2 linked regions of the Homo sapiens genome follow. The protein of the gene in region 2 purifies or fractionates together with the protein of the main gene of each other region. This does not show direct contact. Each region holds a gene or a part of one and is shown on either strand. Other genes may lie near its edges.

Region 1 (3,826 bases), on a different chromosome or scaffold from region 2:
ACTCTTACTACTTACTGCTTCATATTCCAGTTCCGATAAAAGTCTGAACTGTTCTTTCCCCAATAATAGTAGCTTGCTCCTTCCTGTGATTGGACTTACTTCCAGGTGAGTAAAATAAAACACCACAAAGAGCAATCCAAAACTACTCAAACCAAGGAATAGCTTCCATTTATTCTTCCTTATATTTTCTTTAACTACTTCCTTCTTGTTAGGAGGAAGTGCCTGCCACCATTTCCTTATGCCCCTAAAGCAAAAAGAAAAATTCAAAGTTCTGAAAATCATTCCAGCACATATCACTAAAGCTCAAATGCATACACTAGAATTTTACGTCCTCAAATACCTGAATTTGTATGATGTATTTCGCTGAATACATCGCTTTTCCAATTAATAAAATTCTTAGCTAAATGATGAAAAAATAATCAATGATGTAAAGTTACAGTTAAAAAATTCTAATACTCATCGAAATTTTCTTCTTCAGCTATTTTAAGGATAAACACTAAATGAGATGCTAGTTTACTATAACTACCACTGGTTAATATTTATTACTATCTAGTACATGCAAAATTCTCTCTCTCTCTCTCTCTCTCTGTATATATATATATACCATCTCATTTAATCTTCATAATAACCCTGTTACAGAAGATAAAATTGTTAGGTAACTTGTCCATGGCCACTGAGGTAATAAAAGGAAAACCAAGCAATGAAGGCAATGACATTCCAGAGTCTGACCACTTAGCCACTTAATAGGGATAAATGCCTAAATAATTATGTAAGAGGTTACAGTACAATAAATCTATACCTGGAACCACTACTTTTCCCACTGCTCCTCAGACCTCCAACACAATTTGCCAGTGATTCCACAAGGTACAAGGGAAACTGCCTCAGCATTCATTTTGGAAATAAATAGTGCTCAGTAGCAGAAACTCCACTATCCTCTTTACAACGTGAAAAAGGAGAGATAACAAGATCCTAGGTATTCATAAGAAAGTGGGAGATTTTATAGATAACATCTGAGAAGGTCCAATTTCTACCAGGCAACAATACTCTCTGCCACTTAGCAGTGTTCAGAAACATTTTGACAACAAGCAATGTTTTCAATACTGGGACAAAAATTTTCCTTATGAGTTGATCTGTAAAATCACAACAAAAATTTACCATATATACATCATTCTCTTGACAAAAATTTATTTTACAAATTCTTAAAGTTCTCTTTGTGAAGTGACACACCCCAATGCCTTTACACAAAGTGTGTCCATTTAAAGGGACATAAATCAAACTATCGAGTATACTTATTTCCTATTTAAAACTTTACATGACATTATCCTTTATTTAAAATGTATGAAAGACATATTCTAAATGAAAAATTTTAGGTGATCAACAATAGTAACAAAAACAAGAAAGTTACAAATAAATAATTTAAAAGGATGAGGACATAGCAGAAATCAGAAAGAGCATCCGAAGAACCTGGGATGAGCGTATTACTTCAACCAATAGTCAATACAGCTGTATCGCTTTTGGGTGCCAACACCAAATCATGAAAAACACAATAAGTTACAAATAGAAGTTCTTGGTTTTTGATCAAAAGCAAACTGGTTTGGTTCATGTGGTAGTAAGAAGGCTAGAAGGGACTTCACAGTCATCAAACACAAGAAAGCTTTATGAAGAAACAGTGATTAGCTTTCTTCCATCTTCATAAAACAAACAAGAGAAAAAGGGTTAAAGCACTACAAGCTGTGAAAATATTATTATAAAGGATCACCAAGGAAAAAAACAAAGATTTGTTGGGAACAGAATAGAAAGAAAAGAAGCATTAATGACTTAAGAGTTAACTAGGAGTGAGCCCACCCTTATATAAGCAAAGTTCCTCAATTTTATGATTTGCTGCCTTAAATTCCACAAATTAAAAAGAAATGTTTGTAAGTACTCTTCTTATACATAAGTGATAACCAGCACTTCTGATCCATATATCCTAAGATTTTGTAGTCATAAATATAAGATTTTTTTAATGCCTATACAAAATGTAAGAATAACTTTTTAAAGAGATATTTCTATACCATAAATTAGTATGCAGGAAATTGTTTCAAGATTATTAAATCATACAGAACAAAATTGGGCAGGACCTACTGTTTAGAAACTTCACTTTGAGCTAAATGGGGGGAGACAGGGGATCTGGCAAGGTTTCTTTAAAAGTACAGTTTTATAAATAAAAAAATTAATTTCTAAAAGTTAATACGTTAGCACAAAATATTAATGCAAAAAGTTAATATAAAAGTTTTTATTCTAAAAAAGCATTTTACCTGCCTACAATGATTGCAAATAACTTCTGTACTGGTTTAAGAATCATCAACAAGAGAGGAACCGGAGCAGCTTGAAACCGTGGAGAAGTATGGAAATTCCTAATAGCTCTTATGGAAGCAGGGCTTAGAGGATGCAATACTGACAGACTAGGGACTGCTGTAACTTCTTTTATTAGCAGCTGTCTTGAAAAAGCATCATTCCATACAGTACATTTGCTGGTAATCCTCCAAATTTCCTTACTTTTGGTACTTGAGAGGCCTCCTGTTCTTTTGTTGTTAAAAGTACTATAAAAATGAAAGTTTCCAGGCAGAAAACTCCACCTGTCACACTGATTTACTCCCAGTCCCTGATACTTATTTACTATATGGTTAACTTGTACTTGATGACAGCCCCGTGAGGTGGATGCTAATGTGTTACATTTTCTCCAGTTAGACAGTGAATTAAATCGGAAGAAAACATGGTTTCTAGCAGCAGACTGCAATCCACAGATGAAGCTCATTTTTTCACTTGACTACCTGAAACAAAAAAAAAACTATAAATATCTGTGGAAAATATTTACTTACCAAACTGGGACTATAACACTTATTAAATAGGCGTGTCAGTTGTTCTTCTAACACATCTCAGGCTAAATTACCTTGGGTTTCAACTCATCACCCCTAGAGCAACGCCTTTCAGCAAGATAAACCAGAGTATATATACCACGATATTTACTATGCAACGTTTACTTTAGAAGCTTGAATTTTTTTCATTTCATTTTTAATTTTTAGTTAGGGAAGAGCCATTTGTATTTTAATGGCAAATGATTTGAGCAATAAAGTGGATTAGATAAAAACAACAGTAAAACTTTATCAGTTTGCAATAACTGGAAGGAAGCATGTGATACAGAATAGTAAAATCTAACTTATAAAATGCACTGGACATTACGCAATGAAGAACAGTGATCCCTAACAGATGGGAAACAGAGCCCTACAACTGTCCTAGCTTATTGCCTGGAGAGTGCTTCCAGGCCACAATGCAGACAGGGTAAACCTAGGTGGAGCCCAGTGGTTCCCCTAAATCGAAGAGATAAAGCTGGGAGGTCAAGTAAACCAAGGTTGCTAGAGCTCACAGGACAGAGGACAAGAGAAGACAAGAGCTGCACAGAGAAATAACTCTAGAGTTCTGCAGAGAATCCCCCTCCCATATTCAGCTGAGTCCTGTCTGGGCATATGTGTAAGAAAATTCCCTGGAGCTGGGAAAGGGCCACCTGAAAAGATTGCAGGGAATAATATACAGGGCTCACACAGGGCATGGTATACTGCCTATCCCCTCCCCACCATTCAAAGTGGAAAACCTTATCATTCGTGGGTAGAGTACTCAGAAGGGTTTTGCCTCAACATTAGAGAAAGATTAGTCTGAGACCGAAAGCTGCTCTGGCCCCACCTAACAAATATTAAAAGCAACCCCCAAAAAGATTAAATGCTTCCAAGCAACAACTGCATCCCAGGAAAAAAAAAAAATCTAAACAGGTATTAGGACACAAAACTAT
Region 2 (3,826 bases):
TGTCTCTACAAAAAAATAGAAAAATTGACCAGGCATAGTAGTATGTGCCTATAGTCCTAGCTGCTTGAGGGGCTGAGGTGGGAGGATCCATGGAGCCCAGGAGTTTGAGCTGCAGTGAGCTATGATCACTCCACTGCAGTCCAGCCTGGGCAACAGAGCCAGACCCTGTCTTAAATAAATACATAAATAACTGTGTGCTGAGATATAAGAATGGAAATAAGGCAAAAAGAATCTGGACAAGAATAGGGGGAAATAGTGATAGATTTGAGAGGTGTGTGTCACAGCCCACCTAACTAGGGGTCAGATGTGATCACGTTTGTGCTTGGAGCACAAAATTTGTACAAAGGCAAAACAATCATGATATTCTTTTCTGTCATCTGCTTTAAATGCATTTTTATAAAAAAATATTAATTTTTTTTGAGATGGAGTTTCTCTGTCACCCAGGCTGGAGTTCTGTGGTGCAATCTCGGCTCACTGCAACCTCCACCTCCCAGATTCAAGCAATTCTCCTGCCTCAGCCTCCCTAGTAGCTGAGATTACAGAACGTGCCACCATGCCCGGCTAATTTCTGTATTTTCAGTAGAGACAGGATTTCACCATGTTGGCCAGGCTGGTCTTGAACTCCTGATCTCTGGTGATCTGCCCACCTCGGCCTTTCAAAACGTTGGGATTACAGGTGTGAGCCACCATGATCAGCCAAGTAGTTAATATGTTTTTAATTTGTTTTACGTAGGAGATCATATTTCAAAGCTTAGGAAAAAAGCTGAACAATACAGAAATGACAACTTCTGGAGAAAGTTACCACTGGCACAGTTAGAAATAAAATGCACCATTAGAAAAATAAGATTTCAGGCCGGGCGTGGTGGTTCACACCTGTAATTCTAACACTTTGGGAGGCTGAGGCAGGCGGGTTGCCTGAGCTCAGGAGTTCAAGACCAGCCTGGGCAACATGGGGAAACCCCGTCTCTACTAAAATACAAAAAATTAGCCAGGCGTGGTGGCGGATGCCTATATTCCGAGCTACTTAGGAGGCTGAGGCAGGAGAATTGCTTGAACCAGAGAGGTGGAACTTGCAGTGAACCAAGATTACACCACTGCACTCCAGCCTGGGCAAAAGAGCGAGACTCTGTCTCCAGAAAAAAAAATAAATAAATAAATATGACTTCAAACAACTCAGAGAGAAGGCTGACCAATAGAAGAATTAAAGAGCTTTTGAAATACAGTTTAAGAATGGTTTTGCTGCAGTTCTAAAAATGAAATTCTGACTTTATTCTCACAAATAATCCCAAAGGGAGAAAAGGGAAAAGGCATCTACAGGAAGCTTTGGCTAGCTAGGGAACTGTTTTTATATGATCAGACTTTAAAAGTTCATATCCAGAACAAAGAAGAACAAGGTGGTAGAAAATAGAATGCCTAAGGTGCAAAATAAACTGAGGCTGGCAAATATATATATATATATGTGTGTGTGTGTGTGTGTGTGTGTGTGTGTGTGTATTTGTTAGCTTACTTATTGTATAATTATAATGCTTAATGAACTAATACATTCTTATACAATTATATTTAATTTGTTCACATAATTTATGCGTATGTGTGTGTATATATATATTTTAGCCATGTTTGAATGAGATAGATTGAGAGTTCACTGTTTGAGACAGAAGTAAATTTTTTTTCATCTCAGATTTGAAAGGCTCTAATCTGAGGACACCAGTAATTCTTAAGAATTCTCTCCCTTATATTGGGCAAAATCAAAATTCATCATTCATCACCCCTCCCCGCCGCCTCCTGCTTCTAGCCCAGGAATTGATCAATTTAAATACCAGAAGAGATTTCATCTACATCAGAGGTCACGAAACCAATGGCTCCTGGCATCTGGCAGGTAATACGGAAGTACCCCATACATTTATAGAAATAAAATTCAGAAGAATATGGATGACCTGGTGTGGTGGCTCATGCCTGTAACCCTAGCATTGTAGAAGGCTGAGGCAGGAGGATCACTTGAGGCCAGGAATTTGAGACCACCCTGGGCAACATAGTGAGACCTCATCTGTAAAAAGTATATATATGTGTATATATATCTCCACATATGGGTGGAAAGGCCAGGCATAAAGCAGCAATGGATGTTGGCAGTGTAGTGACCTGGATAACGGATGCCCTGTTAAAAGAAATTTACCCACAAAAATTAAAATTTTGTTTAATTTGAAAAATTTAAAACTTAGAAAGATACTGTGTTGGCCAAGCTGAATATCCTCAGACTTCACCTGTGTGTCTCTGGTTTTCATTCCCTGGTTTAGAGGGCTTCTGAGGTTCAGAGAGGTTAGGTGACTTGCCCCCAAACCTAGAACCAATTGATAATACTATGTACAACGAAGATATCAAATCCTAGAAGCAAGTAACTGGCTTACCTGACAACATAACCTGATTCAAATGCTGAGGGCGCCAAACTTGTGTTCCATTCAAGTGGTTCCACAAAAACAAATTTTGCCTCTTGAGGATGTTTATAGATAAAACTCTCCACAAACACAATAATTTCTTTCAATATCGCTTCATTTAGAGGGGTGATTTCGAGGATTCCAGTTCCATGTCCGGCAGCAGTCCACTGCGTCAATTTCCTCAGAGCCACACCCATGGGATCCACCGTGCTCAGACCTGAGCTTAGCACACGCACTACATCAGAGCAGAAAGAGAAAGAGACAACAGCGTCCACCTTTTCCTTGGAACATTTTTCATTCTCAAGACTTTAAACTAGTACTCCCCATCCCACATTCTGCTTATTAATCTTGGAAGATTCTTTTAACATTATCTAATTGCTCTTCAGTTCAATGAAGTAGTAAACCAGCACTAGATAAAACTGACTAGTATTTAAGAAATTTCCGGTATTTGCCCTGAAATTAATAACTTCTTTCTAATTTCCCTAGGGCCTAAGAGAGAGGATTCAAACAGATAGGCATAAAACCCAAATAGAAAACTCCAAGAGTGGAAAAAAAAGGAAGTGGAAGAGGTTTATATTAAGGGCTTTTGTTCACAGCTCTGTTGGGAGCCAGCAGTTTCAGGGACAAACATTCCTTTCAGCCAGGACACACATTGTTTAGAATTACACTATTAAACTGAATACTGTTATCCCGACTTTCTTACAGTGACAATATCTGCATCATCACAATGATGACTGAAGAACATGATTCTGGTAGCTCTGGTTTCCCCAAGTGCATTCTGAGTTAAAAAAGAAATAGAATAAGAACAGTATTGTGAAATATAATTTTTTTTCTAAAAATTGATACAGGACACATTGATCCTATTACCAGAATATCTGGACAATCCAAATACTATTTTCCCTGCCTGTATATCCTGCCCAGATGACATTTTACTGTAATTCACAACCTTCTTAAGAGTTAATGTGAGAGATGTAGGAATAAGTGAGACTCTTTCAGCCTTTTTATCTAAATTAGTTATCAGAAGAGTCTAGCAGTAAAATTTAAAACCAATTCAAGTGAGACAAATTTCACATTGGCTAAATAGAAATTAGTCTGTAAAAGAAGATCTTTTAAAAAGTAACAAAATCTGTAACGTTAAATAAGAGCCAAGTTAGAAAGCACGTTCTGACTTCATAATGAACATTTAATGCTTTTTTGGCAGATAATCTATACTTGTTTCTTTTCTCTTTTGTATAGCACTTATTGATAAAATCTTTCTTCCAGAATATTAGAAGAATGGTTATACGGTTAAATATAGAATAAAATTGGCTTTTTACTCCCATCATTATTAAAAAGGCTTAAAGTACAAAGATTAGACTTGGAGATTTTACATTCTGTACTGTATTAAATCTTTGAAC

Evidence for each region.
Region 1: the proteins of ODAD2 (region 2) and OMA1 purify together in Homo sapiens (affinity purification with mass spectrometry; one large-scale study listed by BioGRID and IntAct). This does not show direct contact.

Annotation. Positions count from the first base shown.
Region 1 is NC_000001.11:58,536,498-58,540,323, forward strand, and holds part of OMA1 (metalloendopeptidase OMA1, mitochondrial precursor), read right to left. Parts: intron 2,814-3,826; 5' UTR 2,798-2,813; coding exon 2,298-2,797; intron 245-2,297; coding exon 16-244; intron 1-15. UniProt on the Homo sapiens protein: Metalloprotease that is part of the quality control system in the inner membrane of mitochondria. Activated in response to various mitochondrial stress, leading to the proteolytic cleavage of target proteins, such as OPA1, UQCC3 and DELE1.
Region 2 is NC_000010.11:27,992,517-27,996,342, forward strand, and holds part of ODAD2 (outer dynein arm-docking complex subunit 2), read right to left. Parts: intron 3,208-3,826; exon of another isoform or gene 3,133-3,207; intron 3,096-3,132; exon of another isoform or gene 2,665-3,095; 5' UTR 2,627-2,664; coding exon 2,403-2,626; intron 1,877-2,402; exon of another isoform or gene 1,793-1,876; intron 1-1,792.